Regions from separate parts of the Homo sapiens genome. Here region 1 is linked to region 2. The links come from fine-mapping of genetic effects on gene expression. Tissue or cell type: whole blood. Region 2 holds a variant in brackets; the other region holds the start of a gene. All regions are shown on one strand. Distances are between the middles of the regions.

Evidence for each region. PIP is the estimated chance that this variant, and not a neighbour inherited with it, causes the effect.
Region 1: CLHC1 starts here. The variant in region 2 is the best candidate, but not a certain one, in a credible set for the expression of CLHC1 in whole blood (INTERVAL, PIP 0.57).

What each region holds. Positions count from the first base shown.
Region 1 is chr2:55,221,244-55,236,493 of GRCh38, forward strand. It overlaps CLHC1 (clathrin heavy chain linker domain containing 1), which reads right to left and starts at 11,050. Exons shown (of 13, transcript NM_152385.4): 1 at 10,980-11,050; 2 at 6,789-6,961; 3 at 992-1,250. The coding sequence starts at 1,168. It overlaps RPS27A (ribosomal protein S27a), which reads left to right and starts at 11,445. Exons shown (of 6, transcript NM_002954.6): 1 at 11,445-11,465; 2 at 11,565-11,629; 3 at 12,120-12,174; 4 at 12,876-12,961; 5 at 13,588-13,719; 6 at 14,185-14,610. The coding sequence starts at 11,582. The coding sequence ends at 14,334. It also overlaps the pseudogene CDPF1P1. RefSeq lists a silencer at 2,156-2,535 and enhancers at 11,095-11,524, 11,545-11,724.
Region 2 is chr2:55,198,317-55,210,079 of GRCh38, forward strand. CLHC1 (clathrin heavy chain linker domain containing 1) reads right to left here. Exons shown (of 13, transcript NM_152385.4): 6 at 11,314-11,515; 7 at 11,088-11,200; 8 at 10,310-10,394; 9 at 7,954-8,060. Among named protein-coding and RNA genes, the nearest start is that of CLHC1, 28 kb to the right of the region's middle. The variant T/TAC (reference allele first, on the strand shown) is at 7,084.

The sequences.
Region 1 (15,250 bases), 25 kb after region 2:
ATTTCACTGTCAAGGCATCTTCCGGGGATGGGGTGGAAAAAAAAAGCTGCATAAATAAATTAGGATTGGTGGGCAAACTGCAATTGTTTAGAAGGATAATAGGTATTTCTAAAACCGTAAAAAGCAAAATCAAATATGTTCCACAAAGTCAGAGCATTTTCTAAGCTGATCTCCCTATTTCCAATATTAATTCCAGTCTAATTCCTTGTAAACCATGACTAGATAATTCTAGATAGAACTCCAATCTACAAGGAACCTCAATTTAATGTTAGATCAAATCTAAACCAAGATTTTAATGATACCACAAACAAACTCAAAATAACAAGGAAGTATCATGTTTCTGCTTGCAGCCCAATTCCTAACAAATCAGATGATACTTTTAGATGAAAAGGTGAAAATTATTATCAGAGGGTACATACAGCCAGGTAGTTGATCAAAAACTGATAGTCTGGGCTAGGCACTGGTAGTTCATGCTTGTAATCCCAGCACTTTGGGAGGCCAAGATAGGAGGATTGCTTGAGGCCAGGAGTGCAAGACCAGCCTAGGCAACACAGAGACCTTGTCTCTACAAAAAATTTTAAAAATTAGTCAGGAGTGGTGGCACAAGTCTGTAGTCCCAGCTATACAGGAGGCTGAGGCAAGAGGATAACTTGAACCCAGGAGTTTGAGGCTGCAGTGAGATATGAGTGTGCCACTGCACTCCAGCCTGGGTGATACAGTGAGACTCTCTCTTTAAAAAATATATAAAGGAAACTTATAATCTGCTCTCAAGCTAAAATAACTGAAACACTCATTCACAGTCAGGAAATACAAATCCAGAATTGCATTTTTCCCATTCATGCCTTTCTGAGAAATTGGATGAACTTCTCAAAATCAGCAAATGGAATGTTATCATTCAAACAGTGGTGTTACTAAGGCAGGAATATTGGTTGTCAACATAGATCATTGCTATCCTCATGAAAACTTAATTGTCTTAAAAGCTTTATGATACCTTATCAAAAACATTTCGGTATATGATGTAATATTCATCAGCAGGTCCTTCCTCACTACAGCCCAGTCTTTCAGTTTCTGTAATTATGTATCTTTGCACACTTTCCAAAAATTCCTTGTCACTTCTACAAATGATAGGTGGGAGAACTGCATGTTTTCTTATTTGATGAACTGACATATTTGACAATCTGCACACTTGTTCACTGAAGAACAGCTAAATCTTGACCTGCTCTTGCAACAAAGCCAAAACTTTGATAAGCCTGAAAGAAAAAAAGAGCATCAATTAATATAATAATTTTTTAACTTAAGTCAAATATTGATCTAAAAATGTATTTTTTTTAGAAAAAAATTTCCTATCTGTCTCTGTGATAAATACTTCAACCTATGTATTAAAAGGTCTATGCTGCCAAGCGTGGTGGCTCATGCCTGTAATCCCAGCTCTTTGGGAGGCCGAGGCAGGTGGATCATCTGAGGTCCGGGAGTTCGAGACCAGCCTGACCAACATGGAGAAACCCCGTCTCTACTAAAAAAGACAAAATTAGCCAGGCGTGGTGGCGCATGCCTGTAATCCCAGCTACTCGGGAGGCTGAGGCAGGAGGATCGCTTGAACCCCGGAGGCGGAGTTGCGGTGAGCCGAGATCGCGCCATTGCACTCCAGCCTGGGCAACAAGAGCGAAACTGTCTCAAAAAAAAAAAAAAAAAAAAAAAAGTCTATGCTATTCCACTGCCATATGCTGCTGCTCTGGGACAGAAATACCAAACACCAGTCAATGAAGAGCTCTTCTCTTGCTAACTATGCACAACTCCTCTCACATGTATCATATAATCGATGGTTTCTTATGTATAATTCACACTTTCTAATAGAAGGTTTGGTATTTTATATTTATTTGTGTCATGTGGGAAAACTAATTTGTAAGCCTCTTGACACAAACAAGGTCAACTATTTTACGACCCCGGCGCTTATCTGGCCTAGCTTCACCCAGCACACAATAGCAATAAATAATGTATTTATTTTTATAATAAACTTTATTTTAATTCTCATCTTTAATATTAAAGTACCAAGCAAAAAGAGGTCCGGACTTCTGCTAAAATCCATCCCTCAATGATGTCAAAAGTAACAGTATTTTTCAGAGTATAGCTTTCAAGCAGCCGCATTATGCCGCTTTCAGTAAAGAATCATGGGCGGCGGCGGCCTGGCGGGGGCGAGCGCGCTGTGGGCCGGCCCCGCGCAGCCTCAGGGCACCTCCCGCTCGCCGGGACTGAGTTCCGCGCCGGCGTGGCCTGCTGTGCTCCGAGCGCCAAGGGTCGGCGCGACCGCTCTCGGCTTTGGGGACCGGATGGAGGAGCGGCGTGTCGGCCTCGGGGGACGGTTCCCCCGACCTCAGACGGCTCTGGGGCGAGGGAGGGCGCGCGGAGGCTCGCGGGGACCACTGGCGCCCCCGGACCCGCTCAGCGGTCCCTGCTCACAGGCACCGCCCCCAGGAGCCTCGGCAGGGGCCTAGGACGCCCCGGTGTTCAGAAGAGAAGCAGGGTCAGGTTCACGCACACCCGCGATCGGATCGTAACTTTTTTTTTTTTTTGAGACGGAGTCTCGCTCTGCCGCCCAGGCTGGAGTGCAGCGGCGAGATCTCAGCTCACTGCAAGCTCCGCCTCCCGAGTTCACGCGATTCTCCTGCCTCAGCCTCTTGAGTAGCTGGGACTACAGGCGCCCGCCACCACGCCCGGCTAATTTTTGTATTTTTAGTAGAGATGGGGGTTTCACCATGTTGGCCAGGCTGGTCTTGAACTCCTGACCTCGTGATCCATTCGCCTCGACCTCCCAAAGTGCTGGGATTACAGGCGTCAGCCACCGCGCCCAGCTGATCGTTAACCTTAAAGTCATTGGTAACCCATGCTTCCTGGAGTTGCATTTGGGGTCACCCAGCGGCGAAGCCCATACAACTTGATACGCCCTTACACACAAGGCTCAGTTCAAGCGAAGGGAGGTCACAGCCAGGAGCCAGGGGCCAGCTGATAATGTACTTGATTCCACAGTCAAAGGAGCTGGATGGCGTCCCATGCAGAGTGCCGTCCTCTGGGAGTGTTTGAGTGTGAACTCCACGCCTTGACAGCTCCCTCCTGCTACTTGGGGCAGAAGCTCCCCCGACACCCAGTGGATGGTCCTCCTGGAGGAAAGCTATGTCACAAAGGATCCCTTCACCTCCGACAATGTCAGATTCCTGGTCCTTAGCTGGCGCTGCAGTTTGTGCAGCAGGCTGTGTGGCCAGTGTACTCGGAGTGATCCTGGAGTCTGAGAAGTCCCTGAGCATCTGCCACAGGGCGACATGCACACAGGGGAGCTGTATCAACAGCCAAGGGGGATGAGATGGGCCAGGGCGGGAGGAACCCCCGCAGTGCGGCGTTGGGAGTGTCTGAGGCGCATGGAGGAGCTGGCGGTCCAGGAGAAGCTGAGAAAGGAAGACTGGAAAGGAGTGCAGTTTATTCTACTTCAAGAGATTCTGCCTCCCTTGTGTCCATGAGAACATCAGTGCTTTTCCTCAGGAAATTCAGCAAGACTTGGAGTAAAGCTCCGTCAAAGAGGCCCCCCAGCCAGCCCGGTTCTCGGACATTGAGTGCAGCCGGGGCTGGGTCAACTGGCAGCACCCTGCACGGAGCTCCTGGGCCAGCCTGCGCCAAGGATGCTGCTGAGCCAGGAGCCGCTGTGCCCAGCCTCTTTTCTGGACCACTGCGAGCAGCACTGCAGCCCAGGGGAGCTGGAGTCCAGCTTGTAGCAGCCACAGGCCCAGGGAGCTGTGCCGAAAAGGTAGCCCAAAGGCAGACAGATGCCAGACCAGACAGAGCCGGGAACCCGGCCAGGTGCCCCCGCATGACCCTCGGGGCCGAGGCCTAAGTGAGTGCTGCTCAGATGTGACTAAGAGGGATGACCTCCTTCAGCGAGAAAGCTCCTAAGAGGCCACCTGCAGGTCCGTGTGGGGGAAGACGCCATGCTGTCTCGGGACCATGGCGCAAGGTAGGTGGCTGCAATGGTCTGTAAGGAAAATCACTGACAGCAGCTGCCTTCTGGAGCCAATCTGGAAGGTCTAGAGCGGGATAGAATTACTTCCCATCCTTATGTGATGCTTGGAAAATGGTTTAACCTTGATCATGTACTATGTTTATAATTAAAAATCCAAAGAACCAGCTAATGTTTGAAAAAGGAATCTTCCACTGAAACATCTGGGTACCTGACATTCTCCCAGGGCACTCTGGACCCGGCAGTGGTTGGGGTCTCCCGGGAAGCTGAGTGCTGGCTTACAGCCTCTCTGTAAGCTCTGGCTTCATCTCGGGCCCCTCCAATCTGTCTCCCCTGACCCCAAGTCAGGAATGCTGTGGGCTTCCTGCCCTCACCCCGCACCTCATGACCGTCACGCTGCCTGCCTGCTTGCCCCCTGCCACCTCGAATTCAGTCCTGGATGCCTTCGAAGCCCAGCCCCACTGCGTGCCAGGGGGTTCCTGCAGCATCCCCTCCTCCAGGCTCCCCATCTCCCTGAAGCTTCCAGGTAGCAGTTGGTGGGGCACTGATCTGTGAGCTCTGGAATGTCTGCTTAGATTTCTGAGAGGCAGGAACTGCTGTCTTTGTAAGTACTCAAGGCCAACTGTCACGTGATGAAGGAATGAATAAAGAATTTTTACTGAAAGGCCGGGAGCGGTAGCTCACGCCTGTAGTCCCAGCATTTTGGGAGGCCGAGGCGGGCGGTTCACGAGGTCAGGAGATCGAGACCATCTGGCTAACATGGTAAAACCCCGTCTCTACTAAAAGTACAAAAAAATTAGCCGGGTGTGGTGGCGGGCGCCTGTAGTCCCAGCTACTCAGGAGGCTGAGGCAGGAGAGTGGCGTGAACCCGGGAGGCGGAGGTTGCAGTGAGCCAAGATCGCACCACTGCACTCCAGCCTGGGCAACTGAGCGAGACTCCATTTCAAAAAAAAAAAAAGAGAAAGAGTTTTTACTGAAAAAAAAAAAATTGTCCAACTGAAGTTGGATACAGAAGTTGGTGCCTAAGATTTAGTCACATTAACTTCAAACAGAACTCTTGGCTTGCTTAATAATGGCTGGCAAGGCAACATCGTAACTTTTTCCCTAATTACAGAAGCATACTCCTGGTATAAAATTCGGAAAATATAAACCAGACAAAATTAATGAAATAAATATCTATTTAATATTTTGGAATATTTCCTTCCAAACATTACAAAACTTGAAATTAAACTCTATATTCAGTTGTGCATCCCATTTTTTTCACTTAATATTAAAAGCACTTTTTCATGTTGTTAAATCGTTTTTTAAAACATGACTTCTAAAGCTTACACAGTATTTCATAGTATGATGTTCCATTAATTTATTCCCCCATTGTCAGATATTTTCACTATTTTTGTTTTGTTTTGAGACAGTCTTGCTCTGTCGCCCAGGCTGGAGTGCAGTGGCACGATCTCAGCTCACTGCAACCTTCACTTTCTGAATTCAAGTGATTCTCCTGCCTTAGCCTCCCGAGTAGCTGAAACTAGAGGTGCAGGGCACCATGTCTGGGTAATTTTTTGTAATTTTAGTAGAGATGGGGTTTCACCCTGTTGGCCAGGCTGATCTTGAACTCCTGGCCTCAAGTGATCAGCCTGCTTTGGCCTCCCAAAGTGCTGGGATTACAGGCATGAGCCACTGCACCTGGCTGCTATTTTCACTAATATAAACAATGCCATGATAAGTAAGTGTCTCAATCAATTGTATCATGTTCTGGCAATATAACTGATACCTGATTATGTGAATAACATATACAGCCTGTAAATACTGCCCATAGCCATATACAGAAGAGGAGACACCAAAATAATTCTGAAGATTAAAAGGCCAAAATTATCTTCATGTTGATGAACTGGATAGCAAAAAGTCAATTTATGAATTAATATAAAGTAGTTCCAGCAAGGGAATAACTCATTAATTAATCAAGTTTTCCTAAATGAGAAATACATTTGTTTATTCATTCATTCAGTCAGTATTTATTGAGTGTCAACAAAGCACCAGGCACCATTTCACAGCTAGGAATTCGGCAATAAGTAAGATAAGGTCCCTGGCTCCTTGAAGCTTATGATCTAGTAGGGGAGACAAACTATAAATAAATAATTTCAAATAGTAAAAGATAACCAGGCGCGGTGGCTCACGCCTATAATCCCAGCACTTTGGGAGGCCGAGGCAGGCAGATCACGAGATCAGGAGTTCAAGACCAGTCTGACCAACATGGTGAAACCACATCTCTACTAAAAATACAAAAATTAGCTGGGAGTGGTGGCACACGCCTATAATCCCAGCTACTCAGGAGGCTGAGGCAGGAGAATCACTTGAACCCAGGAGGTGGAGGTTGCAGTGAGCCGAGATTGAGCCACTGCACTCCAGCCTGGGCAATAGAGCAAGACTCCATCTCAAAAAAAAAAAAAAAGTAAAAGATAAAAGTCAAAAGAGGAAGAAACGGGTGTTATCATTAGAGAGGGGGTAGTGACATTTGGACACCAGTGGCTTCCTACCGTATTACCCTTAGGATAAAATCCAAGTTCCTTTACTTGGCCTATTAGTGCCCTTCAGAAACTAATGACTCTTTTTCTTTGACCAAATTTACTCTCTTCATGTCCCTGTCCTTTGCCCCATATCCCCATTCCCACACCCATGAACTTCCTCTCTTACCTTAGGATCTTACATAATTCTCTCCCCCTCCCTGCAGACCATCCTCCTATATTACCCCCAACCCCCAAAACACATACATACTATCACTTTGATTCACCTGGCTTTTACTCTTTCTTCAGCTTCAGGAAAGCTGTCCTGGATTCCCTTAAAATTGGTCAGATGCCACTGCTATGTTCTCCCATAATACTGTGCACTTCCTCCATCATGGTATTATCCTTCCACCACACTGCCTTAGAGACTTCCTGTTTATATTCTGTCTCATCTGTTAGGCTGTAAGCGTGACAAGATCAGGAAACAAAATGTTCTCTTTCCCCATCATCCCTCCTCTACCATATGCATTCAAGTGCATAATGCAGTTTCTAGCAGAGCAGTACTCAAACATATGTTTGCTGAATAATCAATAATCACTGAACAATAATCTAGTCTATTCATAAGACATTGGACTTGTGGTGCTCTCAAACCAGAACACAGCTAAAGGGATTGTTCCTTAACATCTACAAAATGCCATTGAGTTACATAAACCAACCAAGATTACCATTCATTCATTCATTCATTCATATTAGACATTTAGGGATGTGTTGACAAGTCACAAGGGTTCCCAGTCAAGTGTTCCAGGTCTAGTAAATGAGCCACTGCTACAAAGCAGAAAAGGCAGTGTGACAGAGGTAAGCACAATAGGCTACAGAAGGCCAGAGGGGCATCTCATCAGCCTACGGAAGGGGGCAAGGAAACATTAGGGAAAACATCTAGTAAAACAAAATCTAGGGCAATGCTTAAGTTGTGCTACATTTATTTATTCAATATTTGGGGGACACCTATTGTTTGTCTGCCATTATTCTAGACAATGGAGACACAGTATTGAACAAAACAAAGTCCCTAATCTCACAAAGGTTACATTCATGTAGAAACAGACAACACACAAGAAAAAAAATAGTCCAGGCACAGCGGCTCATGCCTGTAATCCCAGCACTTTGGAAAGCCGAGGCAGGTGGATCACTTGAGGTTAGGAGTTTGAGATCAGTCTGGCCAACATGGCAAAACCCAGTCTCTATTAAAGAATATAAAAATTAGCTGGGCGCAGGGGCTCACACCTATAATCCCAGCTACTTAGGTGGCTGAGGTATGAGAATCATTTGGACCAGAGAGGTGGAGGTTGCAGTGGGCTAAGATCATACCACTGCAATCCAGCCTGGGCGACAGAGGGAGATTCTGTCTCAAAAAAAAAAAAAAAAAAAGAAAGAAAAAAATTATATATATATAGAAATATAGTATGACAGATAGGGGTTAAGTTGTATGAAGAAAAATAAAACAAGGTATGGGGGATAGAGAGTAAGGAAGGTGGGAGGATACCATTTTCTATAAGGGCAGTAAGTCAGGAAAGACAAAAGAGCTTACTGATAAGGTGACATTTCAGAAATCTGAAAATAGCAGGTCATGTAGATTCCTGGGAGATGAGTGGTTGAGGCAAAGAGAGTAGCCAGTCCAAAGGCCTCAGGGTGGGACAACACATTTGAGGAACAGCTAGAGGGCCCGTGGGGCTAGAAGAGAATGAGAAAGGGAGAGAAGAGATGAGATCAGAGAGGTAACTGCCAGATTATGTAGCATGTAGGGTCTTGAGGGCAGAACTACTATCAGCCTAGGGGGTACCTTTGTGCGGTTTAGAAAAAGAGGTCCCTTTCTCTGGGCAGACTTGGCAAGAGGAGCAACACTGGACTGTGGCCTCTACTTGTTCCAGCACTGGAGCAACAGCCTCACTTGTAAGAATTTAGGCTTTCCTCTGAGTGAGATTCGAAGCCTTTAGAGGCCTGTGTGCAGAAGAGTGGGAGAGCTGACTTAACATTTTAAAGAATTGTTCTTGGCCAGGCATGGTGGCTCATGCCTGTAATCCCAGCACTCTGGGAGGCCAAGGCGGGCAGATCACCTGACGTCGGGAGTTCCAGACCAGCCTGACCAACATGGAAAAACCCTGTCTCTGCTAAAAATACAAAATTAGCTGGGCGTGGTGGCGCATGCCTGTAATCCCAGCTACTGGAGAGGCTGAGGCAGGAGAATCACCTAACCCGGGAAGCAGAGTTTGCGGTGAGCCAAGATTGTGCCATTGCACTCCAGCCTGGGCAACAACAGCGAAACTCCATCTCAAAAAAAAGAAAAAAAAGAATTGTTCTTGTTGCTCTGTGGAAAACAGATTATAGGACGCAAGGGTCAAAGCTGGAAGTGCTGTTACGAAGCTACTGCAATAATCAAGGCAAAAGATGATGGTGGCTTGAATCAGGGTGCTAACAATGGAGGTGGTAGGAAGTGTTCTGCATATATTTTGAAAATAAAGCCAAGATCTGCCAAGGTAGATAAGATGTGGGATATAAAAGAACAGTCAAGGATAATCATAAAGTTTTTGGCCTTAGTGACTGGAGAAATGGGAATTGCCATATATAAACATGGGAAGAGCAATTTCATGAGATTAAGTGTTTGGGGCCTGTCCATTAGAGATGTTGAGTAGATAGCTGGATATGTGAAGATGAAGTTGTGACATATCTGTGACATATCTGGTCTGACAGATAAGTTTATGAGTCATTTGCATATGATGATACTTTAAAAGTTATTAAACAAAAATGAGATAACCAAGAAAATGCAGACAAAGCAGAGGTCCAAGGACTGGGCCTTGGGGATACTCCATGGTTAGAGGTCTTGCAGATCAAGAGGAAGCAGCAAATGAGCCTGGAAAAGAGCCTCCAGGGTGGCAGAAAAACTGAGAGGTGAAGTCTTTGAAAGGTTTTCAAAGAGAGATGGAATGAGCAACTGTGTCAAATACTGCTGACAGATCAAATAAGATGAAATGACCATTGAATTTAGCAACATGGAGGTCATTAGTGACCATTACAAGAGCTATCCGATCAGAATGGTGGGGACAAAAGCCTGACAGGAGTGGGTTCAGACAACGGAAGGGAAAGATTAGAGACAATATGTACAAGCAACTCTAGGAAATTTTGTTGTAGAGACTAGTTGGCGGACTAGGGGATGAAAAATGTTCCAGGAGGCAGGGCGTGGTGGCTCACGCCTGTAATCTCACCACTTTGGGAGGCCAAGGAGGATGGATCATTTGAGGTCAGGAGCTAGAGAACAGCCTGGCCAACATGGTGAAACCCCATCTCTACTAAAAATACAAAAATTAGCCGGGTGTGGTGGTGGGCGCCTGTAATCCCAGCTACTCGGGAGGCTGAGGCAGAAGAATTGCTTGAACCTGGGAGGCGGAGTTTACAGTGAGCCGAGACCGCGCCACTGCACTCCAGCCTGGGCAACAGAGCGAAATTCCGTCTCACGAAAAAAAAAAAAAAAAGTTCCAGGAAGAATAAACGACTGGATTCTTCAGAAATGCCAAAACACGGGAGGGCATAGGTCAGGAAATTAAATTAGCTTCATTTACTAAAATGTAGAGTAATGGGTTTAGCAGATTAGGTTGTAAGGAAGGCAGAGGCTGAATGTCATTCTAAGAAATTTGAATTGTATCCTGAAGGTGAGGTATAAAATAATAACACACATTTACCTTTCAGAATGAATATTTTGGAGGCAATAGTGAAGGTGGGTTAGAAAGGAGGAAAGACTGGAGAGAGATAAGGAGTTAGATTCGGAACCCCTACAAGAGAAAATTAAGGTCTGAATTTGGGGATGGGGTCGCAGAGGGCAGAGGATGAAGAAATAAATACAGAAGACATTAGAAAGGACTCTGGTTTGTGGAGTGGAGAAAGGACAGGGAGAACTTGCTTCTAATTGGCCTCCTTGCCGGAAGAAGCACCCCATACATACTCCAAAAACTTCCTCTCAGATCCAAGACTCCCAATGCCCAAATTTGGAAATTCTACAACTAAATAACCATTCTGCAGGTTTCTTTTCCGTACGGCTTCACTTTAAAATTTGAAAACTCCTGAGATTTTTCAACATATTAAAGCGTGTCACACTAAGGAGTGACACACAAGACCCAGACTCTTCCCTAGGCTGGGAGAGACTCGGCGGTTGAAAGCAGGGAGGCGCTACAGGAGAGAAAGGGCTGAACCCCCGCTTCCGCAGATTTCACCTATTTTTCAGTTTGCCTGGAGCAGGCCACGCAAATTCCCTTCCCTTGAAGGCCCAAGGAGCGTCTGGTAGATTGCTGATTCTCTGCCCATCACCGCTTCTGGAAGTGAGTGAAGGACACCTTTCGTGCCCCGCACCCTTTGCCCCCCGCTTAACATTTGCTCTAGTCACTTCCGGCCCGTTCCCACGCTCCGGAAACCATTATTCCGCTTCATCCTACCTCCAGTCCTCACCTGAGTCCTTTTCTCCAAACACCGACTTCAGTGCTTAGAGATAGTAACTAGGGAATCTGGGAGGTGGAACTGCATCTTGGGACAAGTAGTCCAAGGTAGAAGAAAGCAGTGGAGAACTACAGTTCCCAGAATGCACTTCCATTTCCTACCTCTTCCCCAAGAGGCCCCCCTCGACCTCCTTTTAAAAATTCTCTTAGCCACGTTGATTGTACGGGAAAAGCCTTTTTAAAACATCTTTTACGTTGCTTAAACCTACAGTTTCGAAAGCATTCCGAAGGCTAAAGTGAGAAATAAGCCCAGGCTAGGGAGAGGAGAAACGAAGTTCACGTCCTAGTCTGGCACCGGGTTGGATTGTCGCTGGGACGGCAGTCAGGCATTTGGTGTGGTCGCCTAAGGGGTGGGTCCTTCGGCGGGAGCTCCGGGAAACCCCGTGGGCCTGCGCGGCGTTCTTCCTTTTCGATCCGCCATCTGCGGTGGGTGTCTGCACTTCGGCTGCTCTCGGGTTAGCACCCTATGGTGCCTTCTCTTGTGATCCCTGACCTAACCTGTCTCTTCCTTTTCCTCAACCTCAGGTGGAGCCGCCACCAAAATGCAGATTTTCGTGAAAACCCTTACGGGGAAGACCATCACCCTCGAGGTACGGGCCGGGTGGTCATGAGGAAGCCAAGGTCCGAATAAGGTCCTGAGGTGGATTTTAGGACCGGCGCTGCTTTCCATGTCTTAGACCATGATTCCGAATTTGGGTTCTAAAACTTAAGCTTTGAAATGAGTACCTTTTGCTGAGCAACGACCTAGAGGTGATTTTCGGTGGCCAAAGGCTGGACCTGTCTCCTCTCGAGGGGTTCCAGCTAGTTAGTTAAAACGGAGGAGCTGCGGTGGGGAAGGAGACGCTCTGCCCGCCGGGTGCGAGCACGTGTGGCCCTGCGGCCGCCGCCCGCTCTGGGCTGGGGAGATGAAGGTGCTTTCCGGTAGCCGACTTGGGAGGTTGCCCACTGGGTGGGTAATAGGTCTCTCGAGTAGGTCTCAGCCCTGTCGCTGGTTCGGTTCAGTGGTAATTGTCAAACTAAATGAGTTCTGCTGTAGTTCCTTAATGTGTAACCAACATGCTTTCACTTTAACACTCATAGGTTGAACCCTCGGATACGATAGAAAATGTAAAGGCCAAGATCCAGGATAAGGAAGGCAAGTAGTATTTTGTAGTTAAGAAAACTTAACCTGCGGAGACTTCGGCCTACCTGTAGGTGCTAGACATACCTGCTCTTGGTGATGGGGGAAGGGGTCAGATTGACAAAGCGAAATACTTGTGGAATAACACAATAGACATTGGTGATCGGGGAGCACAGTACCTAGATTGGAATCCTTGAGGTGTATTTCACTTGCGTGAATTTGGACACTTATTTATTTATTTTGTGTGAGATGGAGTCTCCTCTGTCGCCCAGGCTGGAGTGCATTCGCTTGTCCCGGCTTACTGCAGCCTCCGCCTCCCGGGTTCAAGTGATTTTTGTGCTTCAGCCTCCCTATTAGTGGGGATTACAGGCGTGCACCACCATGCCTGGCTAATTTATTGTATTTTTAGTAGAGACTGGGTTTTACCTTGTTGGCCAGGCTGGTTTTGAACTTTTCACATCAAGTGATCTGCCCACCTCGACCTCCCAAAGTATTGGTATTACAGGTGTCAGCCACTGCAGACAACCAAGTATTGTCCCTAATATTAAATGCGGTAAAATGTGACATGTAAAGATTTAGAACCATGCCTAACCTCTAGTAAGGGCTTATTGTCAGCCTTTAGTATCATGTATTTGATTAAGGGGTGTTACCTTATAAGTCTGGAGCACATCACAGGCTTGGTGTGCTGTGACTTAATTTTTGTTTTTTGTCATTAGGAATTCCTCCTGATCAGCAGAGACTGATCTTTGCTGGCAAGCAGCTGGAAGATGGACGTACTTTGTCTGACTACAATATTCAAAAGGTCTGTCTAGGGGAAGAGCAGCCTCTTTTAAAAAAAAAATGTTATTTTGGAAATTTTTTATTTTACTTTTTTTGAGACAGGCTCTGACTCTGTCACCTAGGGTGGAGTGAGTGGCGCAGTCACTGCAACCTCCACCTCTCAGACTCAGGTGGTCCTCCCACCTCAGCCTCCTGTAGTTGGAACTATAGGCACCCGCCACCATGCCCAGGCTGGTCTCAAACTCCTGGGCATAAGTGATCTTCCCACCGTGGCCTCCCAGCGCTGGGATTACAGACGTGAGCCACTCCATGTGGTGTATTCTGGACATTTTGACACACAAAAAGGGAAAATGGCATTCGAATAGCAGTAGATTTTTAGGTAACTCCTATACTGATACTTGAGAAGCACTGCTATAGTTCTCCCATTATGAATTTTGCAAGTTGTATCCCATGGTGTAATGTAATGCATTCTTTAATGTCCCTATAAACTGTCAGTTAAGAATCTGATACTTTATTGGGTTTGGGGGCTGCAAGATTCCCTCAAATGTTATTGTGTGCTGCTACTGCTTTTAATTAGAAAATGCATAATGTTGGGTGTGCCCATTCTTAGTGGAATCATGAAAGCTTGCTTCATTCTTCCATTAACAGGAGTCTACTCTTCATCTTGTGTTGAGACTTCGTGGTGGTGCTAAGAAAAGGAAGAAGAAGTCTTACACCACTCCCAAGAAGAATAAGCACAAGAGAAAGAAGGTTAAGCTGGCTGTCCTGAAATATTATAAGGTGAGCCAGTTAAAGGGCAGAATGTCAGCAAAGTCTTGGCTTATTTGGAAAACTTAATCTTTATAGTACTTGTCAATATTTTCTTGGACTTAAACACCCAATATTATCCCACTTTGGTTTAAATGAGGTATTCTGGAAATGAGAAATTCAGACTTTCTGGGGTTTTTCCTGTTTGGTATTTGAAATCAGTTATGTAATAGGGTTCTGAGTTTAAAGTCGGGTTTGGGTTCAGGTCTTTACCTTTGTCTACCACTTGCAAAGCTGGCCTTTAGTGTTCAAAAGTCCCAAGACTTCTGAATGTTTTCATTGTAGCAATGATAACTGGTGAGAATTTAGGGTGCTTTGGTTTGTAAGCACCAAAACCACCAGTATTACACAGTTAAAAGCTTAAATATTTTGAGTCACTTAAATTAGACTTCAGAATGTGTTGTAAAATTATCTTAACAGCAGGTTTGTGCTTTTCAGGTGGATGAGAATGGCAAAATTAGTCGCCTTCGTCGAGAGTGCCCTTCTGATGAATGTGGTGCTGGGGTGTTTATGGCAAGTCACTTTGACAGACATTATTGTGGCAAATGTTGTCTGACTTACTGTTTCAACAAACCAGAAGACAAGTAACTGTATGAGTTAATAAAAGACATGAACTAACATTTATTGTTGGGTTTTATTGCAGTAAAAAGAATGGTTTTTAAGCACCAAATTGATGGTCACACCATTTCCTTTTAGTAGTGCTACTGCTATCGCTGTGTGAATGTTGCCTCTGGGGATTATGTGACCCAGTGGTTCTGTATACCTGCCAGGTGCCAACCACTTGTAAAGGTCTTGATATTTTCAATTCTTAGACTACCTATACTTTGGCAGAAGTTATATTTAATGTAAGTTGTCTAAATATAAGCCAGTTTGTGTTTCTGTCCATTTCTTGACCTCAACACAACAGACATTTGGGGCCAGGTAATTCTTTGTTGTGGGGTGCCTGTAATCCCTATGCTTTGGGAGGATCACTTGAGTGTCCAGGAGTTCAAGAGCAGCCTGGGCACCATAGCAAGACCCCCATCTCTGTAAAAAAAAAAAAAAAAAAAAAAAAAGTAGGCTGACTCCTATGGTCCTGCCTACTGGGAAGTCTGAGACAAAAGGATCCCTTGAGCCCAGGAGTTGTAATTAATTATGCATTGCATTTCAGCCTGGACAAAACCCTGCTTCCAAAAAAAACAAAATGCATCCTCAGTCTCTGGGTGTTTCAGTGGAATGCTTGCTGTCTGTTGTACAACGCTTGGGAATTTAATGTTTGTTCAGGATGGATCCCTATAAAGGAATGATTACTTATTTGTACTGTTAACAGTAAAAGACAGTTTAGTTTCAAGCAGGACTGGGGTAGCCTATCTTCCTTCGGAGCTCAATTCAGGGAAAGCTGGTTCACTTGATAAGCCTCTTAACTAAAGCATACACTTGAAAGAAATCGGTGATGTATAAATAACAATTCACTTTTACCATATTGCCAGTCTTTCCATTCAAGGATTTCTAGTTGGAGGCATCC
Region 2 (11,763 bases):
GGCTCACGCCTATAATCCCAACACTTTGGGAGGCTGAGGAGGGTGGATCACCTGAGGTCAGGAGTTTGAGACTGGCTGGACCAACATGGCAAAACCATGTCTGTACTAAAAAATACAAAAATTAGCTGGGTATGGTGGCACACCTGTAGTTTCAGCTATTCAGGAGGCTGAGCCAGGAGAATCGCTTGAACCCAGGAGGCAGAGGTTGCAGTGAGCCGAGATCACACCACTGCACGTGAGCCTGGGTGACAGAGCATGACACCGTCTCAAAAAATCCAAAACAAAAAAAAGGGATAATACCAGAGAACTTTCCAAACCTAGAGAAAGCTATCAATATTCAAGTACAAGGTTATAGAACAGCAAGCAGATTTAACCCAAAGAAGACTCTCAAGGCATTTAATAATCAAACTCCCAAAGGTCAAGGATAAAGAAAAGATCCTAAAAGCAGCAAGAGAAAATAAATGACATACAATGGAGTTCCAATATGTCTGGCAGCAGACATTTTAGTGGAAACCTCACAGGCCAGGAGAGAGTGGCAGGACATGTTTAAAATGTTGAAGAAAAAAAACATTTACCCTAGAATAATATATCTGGCAAAAAATATCCTTCAAACACGAAGGAGAAATAAAGACTCTCCCAGACAAACAAGCTGAGGGATTTCATCAACATCATACTTGTCCCTTAAGAAATGCTGAGGTGGCCAGGTGCAGTGGCTCATGCCTATAATCCCAGCACTTTGGGAGACCGAGGTGGGAGGACTGCCTGAGTTCAGGAGTTCACAACCAGCCTGGGCAACATGGTGAAACCCCATCTCTACTAAAATACAAAAAACTAGCTGGGTGTGGCAGGGTGCACCTGTAGTCCCATCTATTTGGGAGGCTGAGGCAGGAGACTTGCTTGAACCCAGGAGGTGGAGGTTGCAGTGAGCTGAGATCATGCCACTGCACTCCAGCCTGGACAAAAGAGTGAGACTCCATCTCAAAAAAAAAAAAAAAAAAAAAAAAAGAAATGCTGAGGGGAGTACTTCAATCAGAAAGAAAAGGATATTAACGAACAATAAGAAATTAAAGGTACAAAACTCACTGCTAATAGTAAGTTCACACAAAAAAGGCAGTATTATAACACTGTAATTGTGTGTAAATTACTCATATCTTAAGTAGAAAGGCTAAAAGATGAACTGATCAAAAATAATTACTACAAAAACTTTTCAAGACATTGACAGTACAATAAGATATAGATAGAAACAACAAAAAATTAAAAAGCTAGGGGACAAAGTTAAAGTCTAGAATTTTTATTAGTTTTCTCTTTGCTTGTTAGTTTTTTATTTGTTTATGCAATCAGTGTTGTAATCAGTTTATAATAATGGGTTATAAGATATTATTTGCAAGTCTCATGATAACCTCAAATCAAAAAGCATACAATGGACACTCAAAAAATAAAAAGCAAGAAATTCAAACATACCACCAGAGAAAATCATCTTCACTAAAAGAAAGACAGGAAGGAAGGAAAGAAGGAAGAGAAGACCATAAAACAACCAAAAAATAACAAAATGACAGGAGTGAGTCCTTACTTAATATCAAGTGAATGTTAGCAGACTAAACTTTCCAATCAAAAGACATAGAGTGGGCCAGACACAGTGGCTCACACCTGTAATCTCAGCATTTTGGGAGGCCAAGGCAGGAGGATTACCTGAACCCAGGAGTTCAAGATCAGCCCAGGCAACATGGTGAGACCTTGTCTCCACAAAAATTTAAAAAATTAGCCAAGTGTGGTGGTGCATGCCTGTGATCCCAGCTACTTGACAGGGTGAGTGAGATGGTAGGATCACTTGAGCCCAGGAGGTTGAGACTGCAGTGTGCTGTGTTCATACCACTGCACTAAAGCCTGGGTGACAGAAAAAGACTGTCTTAAAAAAAAAAAAAAAAAAAACAGTGGCTGAGTAGATAAAAAAAAAAGACCCAATGATCTGTTGCCTACAAGAAACACTTCATCTTTAAAGACACATATAGACTGAAAACACAGGAATGGAAAAAGATATTCCATTCAAATGGAAACCAAAAAAGAGCAGAAGTAGACAAAATAGATTTCAAGACAAAAACTATAAAAAGAGACAAAGAAAGTCATTATATAATGATAAAGGGGTCAATTCAACAAGAGGACATAACAATTGTAAATATATATGCCCCTAACACTGGAGTACCCAGATACATAAAGCAAATATTATTAGTGCTAAAGAGAGAAATAGACCCCAATATAATAATAGTTGGAGAATTCAACACCCTCACTTTCAGCACTGGACAGATCATCCAGACAGAAAATCAACACAGAATCATCAGACTTGATCTGCACTATAGACAAAATGGATCTAATAGATGTTTACAGAACGTATCACCCAACAGCTGAAAAATACACATTCTTCTTCTTAGCACATGGGTCATTCTCAAGGAAAGACCATATGTTAGGCCACAAAGCAAGTATTAAAACATTCAAAAAATTGAAATAATATCAAGCATCTTCTCTGATCACAGTGAAATAAAACTAGAAATCAATAAGAAGAGGAATTTTGGAAACCATACAAATATGGAAACTAAACAATACGCTCCTGACTGACCATACACAGGTCAATGAAGAGATTAACAAGGAAATTTAGAGATTTCTTGAAACAAACAATAATGGAAACACAACATACCAAAACCTATAGGATAACAATGAAAGCAGTACTAAGAAAAAAGTTTATAGCTATAAGTGCTTACATCAAAAAAGAAGAAAAACTTCAAATAAACACCCTAATGATGCATCTTAAAGAACTAGAAAAGCAAGAGTAAACCAAACCCAAAGTTTTTAGATGAAAAGAAACAATGAAGATCAGAGCAGAAATAAATGAAATTGAAATGAAGAAAACAATTATAAAAATCAATGAAGAGTTTAAAAAAAAAAAATTGACAAATCCTTAGCCAAACTAAGTAAGAAAAAAAGAGAGAAGACCTGAGTAAATAAAATCAGAGATGAAAAAGGAGACATTACAACCAATACCACAGAAATTCAAAGGAGCCTTATAGGTTACTATGAGCAACTATATGCCAATAAACTGGAAAACCTAGAAGAAATGAATAAATTCTTAAGACACATACAACCCACCAATATTGAACCATGAAGAAATCCAAAACCTGAACAGACCAATAAGTAATGAGATTGAAGCTGTAATATAAGGTCTTCCTGAAAAGAAAAGCCCAGGACCTGATGGCTTCACTTCTGACTCTACCAAACATCTAAAAAAGAACTAATACATATCCTACTCAAGCTATTCCAAAAAATAGAGGCAGAGGAAATACTTCTAAACTCATTCTACAAGTCCAGTATTACCCTGATACCAAAACCAGACAAAGACACATCAGAAAAGAAAACTACATGTCAATAATTCTGATAAACATTGATGCAAAAATCATCAACAAAATACTAGCAAACCCCAATAACACATTAAAAAAATCATTCATCATAACCAAGTGGGATTTATCCTAGGGATGTAAGGATGGTTCAACATACACAAATGAATCAATGTAATGTATCCTATATCAACAGAATGAAGGACAAAAACCATATGATAATTTCAAGAGATGCTGAAAAAGCATTTAATAAAATTCAACATTCTTCATGATAAAAACCAGAAAAAAATCTGGGGATAGAAGGAATATACCTCAACTAATAAAAGCCATATATGACAGAACCACAGCTAGAATCACACTGAATGGGAGGAAACTGAAAGCCTTTCCTGTAAGATCTGGAACACAACAAAGATGCCCACTTTCACCACTGGTATTCAACACAGTACTGGAAGTCCTAGTTAAAGCAATCAGACAAGAAAAAGAAATAAAGGGCATCCAAATTGGAAAGGAAGAAGTTAAATTATCTTTGTTTTCTGATGATGTAATCTTATATTTGAAAAAAAAAAAAAAACCTAGCTGGGTGCGGTGGCTCATGCCTGTAATTCCAGCACTTTGGGAGACCGAGGTGTGCGGATCACCTGAGGTCAGGAGTTCGAGATCAGCCTGATCAACATGGAGAAACCCTGTCCCTACTAAAAATACAAAAATTAGCCGGGCCTGGTGGCAGGTGCCTGTAATCCCAGGTACTCGGGAGGCTGAGGCAGGAGAATTGCTTGAACCCAGGAGGCGGAGTTTGCAGTGAGCTGAGATCGCGCCATTGCACTCCAGCCTGGGGGACAAGAGTGAGACTCTGTCTCAAAAAAAAAAAAAAAGTAAAAGAAAAAAATCTAGAGACTCCACCAAAAAACTATTAGAGGCCAAGCATGGTGGCTAACACCTGTAATCCCAACACTTTGGGAGGTCAAGGCGGGCTGATCACTTGAGGTCAGGAGTTCAAGACCAGACTGGCCAACATGGCAAAACTCCGTCTCTACTGATAATACAAAAAAGTTAGCTGGGCATGGTGGTGCACACCTGTTGGCCCAGCGACTCGGGAGGCTGAGGCAGGAGAATCACTTGAACCTGGGAGGCAGAGGTTGTAGTGAGCTGAGATTGCACCACTGCACTCCAGCCTGGGTGACAGAGTGAGACTCATCTCAAAAAAAAAAAAAAAAAACTATTAGAACTGATAAACTCAGTGAAGTTGAAAGATACAAAATCAACATATAAAAATCAGTGCATTTCTATATGCCAACAACAAACAATCTGAAAAAGAAATTTAAAAAAGTAATCCTGCTTATAATAGCCACAAATTAAATACCTAGAATTAACCAAAGCACTGAAACAGCTCTAGAATTAACCAAAGCACTGAAACAGCTCTACAATTAAAACTATAAAACACGGATGAAAGAAACTGAAGAGGACACACAAAAAATGGAAACATATGCCATATTCATGGATTGGAAGAATCAGTATTGTTAAAATGTCTATACTACCCAAAGCAATCTACAGATTTAATGCAATCCCTATCAAAATACCATGAAATTCTTCACAGAAATAGAAGAATCAACTCCCAAATTTATATGGAACCACAAAAGACCCAGAATAGCCAAAAACCATCCTAAGCAAAAAGAACAAAACTGGAGGAATCACATTATCTAACTTCAAATTCTACTACAGAGCTATAGTAACCAAAACAGCACGGTAATGGAATAAAAACAGATGCACAGTCCAATGGAACAGAATAGAGAACCCAGAAACAAATGCACATACCTAAAGTGAACTCACTTTTGACAAAGGTGACAAGAACATATACTGGGGAAAAGACAGTCTCTTCAGTAAATGGTGCTGGGAAAACTGGATATCCATATGCAGAAAAATGAAACTAGGCCCCTATCTCTTGTCATAGAAAAAACCAAATCAAAATGGATTAAATATTTAAATCTAAGACCTCAAACTATGAAACCATACAAGAAAACATTGGGGAAATTCTCCAGGACATTGGTCTCGGCAAAAATTTCTTGCATAATACCCCATAAGCACAGGCAATTGAAGAAAAAAATGGACAAATGGGATCACATCAAGGTAAAAAGCTTCTGCACAGAAAGGATACAATCAACGAAGTGAAGAGACAACCCACAGAATGGGAGAAAATATTTGCAAACTACCCACCTAACAAGGAGTTCATAACCAGAATACATAAGGAGCTCAAACAACTCCATAGGAAAAAAATCTAATAATCTGATTAAAAATGGGCAAAAGATGGCCAGGTGAGGTGGTTCACACCTGTAATCCCAACACTTTGGGAGGCCAAGGCAGGTGGATCACCTAAGGTCAGGAGTTAGAGACCAGCCTGACCAACATGATGAAACCCCATCTCTTCTAAAAATACAAAATTAGCTGGGCATGGTGGTGCATGCTTGTAATCCCAGCTACTAGGGAGTTTAAGGTAGGAGAATCACTTGGACCTGGGAGGCGGAGGTTGTGGTGAGCCGAGATCACGCCATTGCATTCCAGCCTGGGCAACAAGAGGGAAACTCTGTCAAAAAAAGAAAAGGCAAAAGATTTGAATAGACATTTCTCAAAAGAAGACATACAAATGGCAACCAGGCATATGAAAATGTGCTCCACATCATTGATCATTAGAGACATACAAATCAAAACTACAATGAGATATCATCTCAGCCCACTTAAAACAGTAGCTTTTATCCAAGAGTCAGGCAATAAGAAATGCTGGCAAGAATGTGGAGAAAAGGGAACCCTTGTACACTGTTGGTGGGAATGTAAATTAGTACAACCACTACGGAAAACACTTTGGAGGTTCCTCAAAAAATGAAAACTTGGGTTACCATATGATCCAGCAATCCTATGATTATACCATATGATCAACAATCCTATGATTAATGCAGTGCTATTCACAATAGCCAAGATTTGGAAGCAACCTAAGTGTCCATCAACAGACAAATGGAAAGAAAATGTGGTACGTATAGGCAATGGAGTACTATTCAGTCATAAAAAAGAATGAGATCCTATCATTTACAACAACATGGATGGAACCGGAGGTCATTATGTTAGGTGAAATAAGCCAGGCACTGAAGGACAAACTTCACATGTTCTCACTTGTTGGTGGAGTTAAAAATAAAAACAATTGAACTCATGAACACAGTAGAAGGATGGTTACCAGAGGCTATGAAGGGTAGTAGGGGAGTTGGGTGGGGGAGTTGGGCTGTTTAATGGGTTAAAAAAAATAGTTAAATTGTTAAAATGGCCATACTGCCCAAAGCAGGGAAATCTACAAAGCAGGGAACTACAAAATCACAATGAGATACCATCTTACACCAATCAGAATGGCTATTAATAAAAAGTCAAAAGGCAACAGATGTTGGAGAGGATGTGGAGAAAAGGGAACGCTTTTACATTTTTGGTGGGAATGTAAATTAGTACAATCTCTATGGAATACAGTATGGAAATTTCTCAAAGAGCTAAAAATAGAACTACCATTCAATCCAGCAATCCCGCTACTGGGTATCTACCCAAAGGAAAATAAACTATTATATGAAAAAGACACCTGCATTCATTATGTTTATCACAGCACTATTCACAATAGCAAAGTCAGAGAATCAACCTAAGTGTCCATCAAGGGATGATTGGATAAAGAAAA[T/TAC]ACACACACACACACACACACACGCACACACACACACACACCACAGAATACTACTCAGCCATAAAATAAAACTGAACGCCATTATCCTAAGTAAAATAAATTAGGGCGAGAGAACTAGGAAGTAGCAGGAAGAGAGGGATACTGAGGGGCATGAGGGAACTTTTGAGTGATAATCTCATGGGTGTATGCATATGTCAAAACTTACCAAATTGGGCTGGGCACGATGGTTCACACCTGTAATTCCAGTACTTTGGGAGGCCAAAGCAGGTGGATTGCCTGAGGTTAGGAGTTTGAAACCAGTCTGGCCAACATGGGAAACCCTGTCTCAACTAAAAATACAAAAAATTTAGATGGGTGTGGTGGCACACACCTGTAATCCCAGCTACTCGGGAGGCTGAAACGGGAGAATCGTTTGAACCTGGGAGGCAGAGGTGGCAGTGAGCCAAGACTGTGCACTGCACTCCAGCCTGGACAACAAGAATGAAACTCTGTCTCAAAAAAAAAAAAACTTACCAAATTGTGTACTTTAATATGTACAATTTGTTGTATTATGTCAATTTACCACAAGGAAGCTGTGTTTTAAAAGGATGTGGAGCAAATTTGACAAAGTATTAACATTTATTAAATCTTGATAGTGAGTACATGGGTGTTAATGTTTCTCCATACTTTTCTGTATACTTAAAATCGTTCATAATGTAATTTAGAAAATCTAATCAAATCCCTAATGTTACTGCTAAGCAAACTGAGTAAATGGTAGAGATAGGGCTGGGGCCTAGATCTTTAGTCTCCCAGTTTAATGCTTTTTCTATTTTATGAGAGAAAAAGTAGTAAATTTTCATACATATATAAGGTTCAGAGAGAAATGCTTACCCTTAAATGTATTCATTGTACCAATGTTTCGAAGAATTCTTCTAGGACTGTTTGCTGCATAACAAGCTGCCTTTTCATATTCACCAAGTGAGATTAACTCATTAAACCTATAGCCATCACATTTTAAAATGCATTATAATGACACAAAGAAAAAGAGAAAAAACTGATTAGAAATGTTTAATACAGACTAAATATAGCGGCATAACGATATGGAAAAACAAAAAGGAATTCTAATAAACTATAACTAGAATCATTCACACTGTAAGATGTTCCTTGAAATCCTTCTCTAGTACTCTGTTGGGTTTTTTTTAAGTCTCAGAATAAAACTCCCACCTGCTAGCTGACTTTGAACATGATCCTAAACTTTATTCCTATAGCACTTACAGCAAGCCATAGAGGATGGAAGAAAGAACTTGAATTTATTATGAACTCAGATTTTTTTCCCTGCATATCATCTCCACATGAAAAAGTACTGGCATCAGAGGAAAGAAGGGCAATCTGCTTAGAAACATCGCCTAAAGGAAATATTAATTGAAGATAGAACCTACCAAATTGGGCCGGGCATGGTGGTTCATGCCTGTAATCCCAGCACTTTGGGAGACCGAGGATGGGGGATCACGAGGTCAGGAGATCGAGACCATCCTGGCTAAGATGGTGAAACCCTGTCTCTACTAAAAATACAAAAAAAAAAAAAAATTAGCCAGGCGTGGTGGCATGTGCCTGTAGTCCCAGCTGCTCAGGAGGCTGAAGCAGGAGAATCACTTGAACCCGGGAGGCAGAGGTTGCAGTGAGCCAAGATTGTGCCACTGCACTCCAGCCTGGGCGACAGAGTGAGACTCCGTCTGAAAAAAAAAAAAATGAAGCTGCCAAACTGGAGATCAAGAGGTGTCCTTGGTATTCAGAAGCCTATGTTGTTCTGCCAGGCAACAGGTTCCCAATCGAAGATTAGCACAAGAAGGAAAGATAATAGTTAAGATAACTTAAGCCTCTACTCCTCTTCCTATGGCAAAAGGTCTTCAAATCAGTCCTTACCTCACAATTAATAAAACTATGATAAACAGAAGTTACACAGTGTTGCAAATGAATGTGGAGCCCCAGGCGGAAAACCCACTAAAGTAATATTAAGCAAAATACATAAAACTTTCAATCTCAACAAGGGTTTTTCTCTCATATCAAACTGTCAGACTTACAGAAGCATTACAGTGTAAGGAAATAACATGAGCTTTTGTGCTCTGCCCAAAATTATATTTACCCCCTTCTTTTTACCATACCAACAATCCAATTAACAGTTGAAAACTGTTTAACATATAAAGACCAGGAATATTACATATGTTCATTACAGATAAGCGTCATAGCCTATGAATTAACCTCTTAAAGAATATAGTCTTACTATGTATTAAAAATGTTTAAAAATGCTCCTGCATGTTAAACACCAGGGGAGCAACTGTGAGGGGAAAAAAGGAGGGAAAAGGAATTGAAGATAGCAGGAATGATACACAGTAGGATGTCAACTGTAACAAACTTCTACAAAAAGAGCTGAAGTAAATACGGCAAAATGTTAATTTCTTGCTAAGTTGGTACACAGAATAACATTTTGTTAATGTTATTGTCTGTATTTTTATGTATACTTGAAATATTTGATGAAAGTAATGTTTGATAAAAAGTAAACAAAGTAAAAAAGAATATAGTCTTAAATCTCTTTAATCTTATATACTATGTATAATAACTTAAGTATTAGGGAGAAATATGCCTCCTTAATAAGTCAGGGGATAGAAGTAATGAGAAAGAAAGGACTGAATTGGCTAGAATAATCTGAATCAGGAAGACATTCTCAAAAACATTTTGTAACATCAGGTTGATAGCTAGGAAATGTAAGAAAAATACAGGCTGGGTTTCCCTTATCCTAAATGCGTGGGACCAGAAGTGTTTTGGATTTCAGATTTTTTCATATTTTGGAATATATGCATGTACATAATGAGATATCTTGGGGATGGGATCCAAGTCTAAACACAAAATTTATATTTCATATATACCATATACACATAGCCTGAAGGCAATTTTATATAATATTTCTAATAATTTTGTGCATGAAACAAAATTTGTGTACATATTGATCTATCACAAAACAGAGGTATCACTATCTCATGTCAGTGCTCAAAATTTTTCGGATTTTGGAGCATTTCAGATTTCAAATTTTTGGATTAGGAATGCTTAACCTGTATAAATAAAACATATCAACATTATAATCCTCTTATCTCCTCTGAAAAATCTCCTAGATTCCCAATCTGGTATGTTATTCACAAAGAATCTATGAAAAAATATAATTCTGAAAAATTAAAGCTTTTAAAATATTTGCCTTTCAATGTAGTGAAGCATAATTTCAGCTTCTTTTGCCCTGCGTGGATCATCTTCCATTAGTTCTTCAACAATGCCTTGGTCACCTGTAAATATTGAAAGTACTACTGGAAGATATTTAAGGTTACTTACCAATAGAAAACAATAAACATACATGTGTTTAATACCAACAGCTTATTGCTATGGCTCCTAACAGCAGCAACCTCTTCCTAAACTTAGTGGCCTCCCCGTCCCTTTCCTCTTTTTTTTTTTTTTTTTTTTTTTGAGACGGAGTCTGGCTCTGTCACCCAGGCTGGAGTGCAGTGGCCCTATCTTGGCTCACTGCAAGCTCCGCCTCCCGGGTTCACACCATTCTCCTGCCTCAGCCTCCCGAGTAGCTGGGACTACAGGTGCCTGCAACCACACCCGGCTAATTTTTTGTATTTTTTTTAGTAGAGACGGGGTTTCACTGTGTTACCCAGGATGGTCTCGATCTTCTGACCTCGTGATCTGCCCGTCTCAGCCTCCCAAAGTGCTGGGATTACAGGCATGAGCCACCGTGCCCGGCCTCCTCTTTATTTTGATGTACATTTTCAGGCATTCTGTCTTTGGCTCACCAAGTCTATTCTTTACTAATTATCTGTTAGCTGTTGAAGGAAGAAACCCATAGCGTAACAGACAACCAGCTGAAGTATGATCTTGCTTTATTTAAACTCAGCCTAAGAAAACCCCATTCTAACTAGCTAGCGAAAAAAATGTCTTCCATTATTGGTACTAATTTAAAAATATAGATAATCTACCTTGTAAATATTTGGTTTTCTGAATTTGCTCCACAAAGTCTTGAAATGGGCTGCTCATATCAGATTTTACCCATGAACTAAGTGCCTGTGAAATTATCTGCAGTCTTTGATGACTAAAAAGATAAAAAACGTCAATAACACACTGAGCCTAAAATCAAATGGTGGAATATTAGAATAAACACAAATAAAACTCCAAACTTTAAAAACATATAATCAACTTCCATACCAAAACTGCAATTTTTTGTTCAGATTTTCAGCTACATCTCGCCGTTTTAATAACACAATCATTTCTTCATCTAAATCAGCCTTCCTCTGAGCTGGCACATATTTTATCAACATAGCTTGTTTAATTTCTGCATATTTATCTTCAAGATGTTTCATGTATTTAGTGAGAGCATCTAGATTCATGGATTCTTGAAGAGTCATGCCTATGGGGAAAGGGAACAAATCAAACACGACAAGCCATGTGTGGGACGCTTGTGCTCAAAGAGCAAGTCTTAGAAAGACAGTTCACTATGTTAAGAAACAATTTAGAAATGATAGTATGTACTTATAGCTTACTGAACATAAGTAAAATTAGCATAAACTTGTGAATGGCTAGCAGGTTATTTATTTATTTATTTATTCATTTATTTAATACAGACAGGGTCTTGTTATGTTGCCCAGGCTAGTCTTA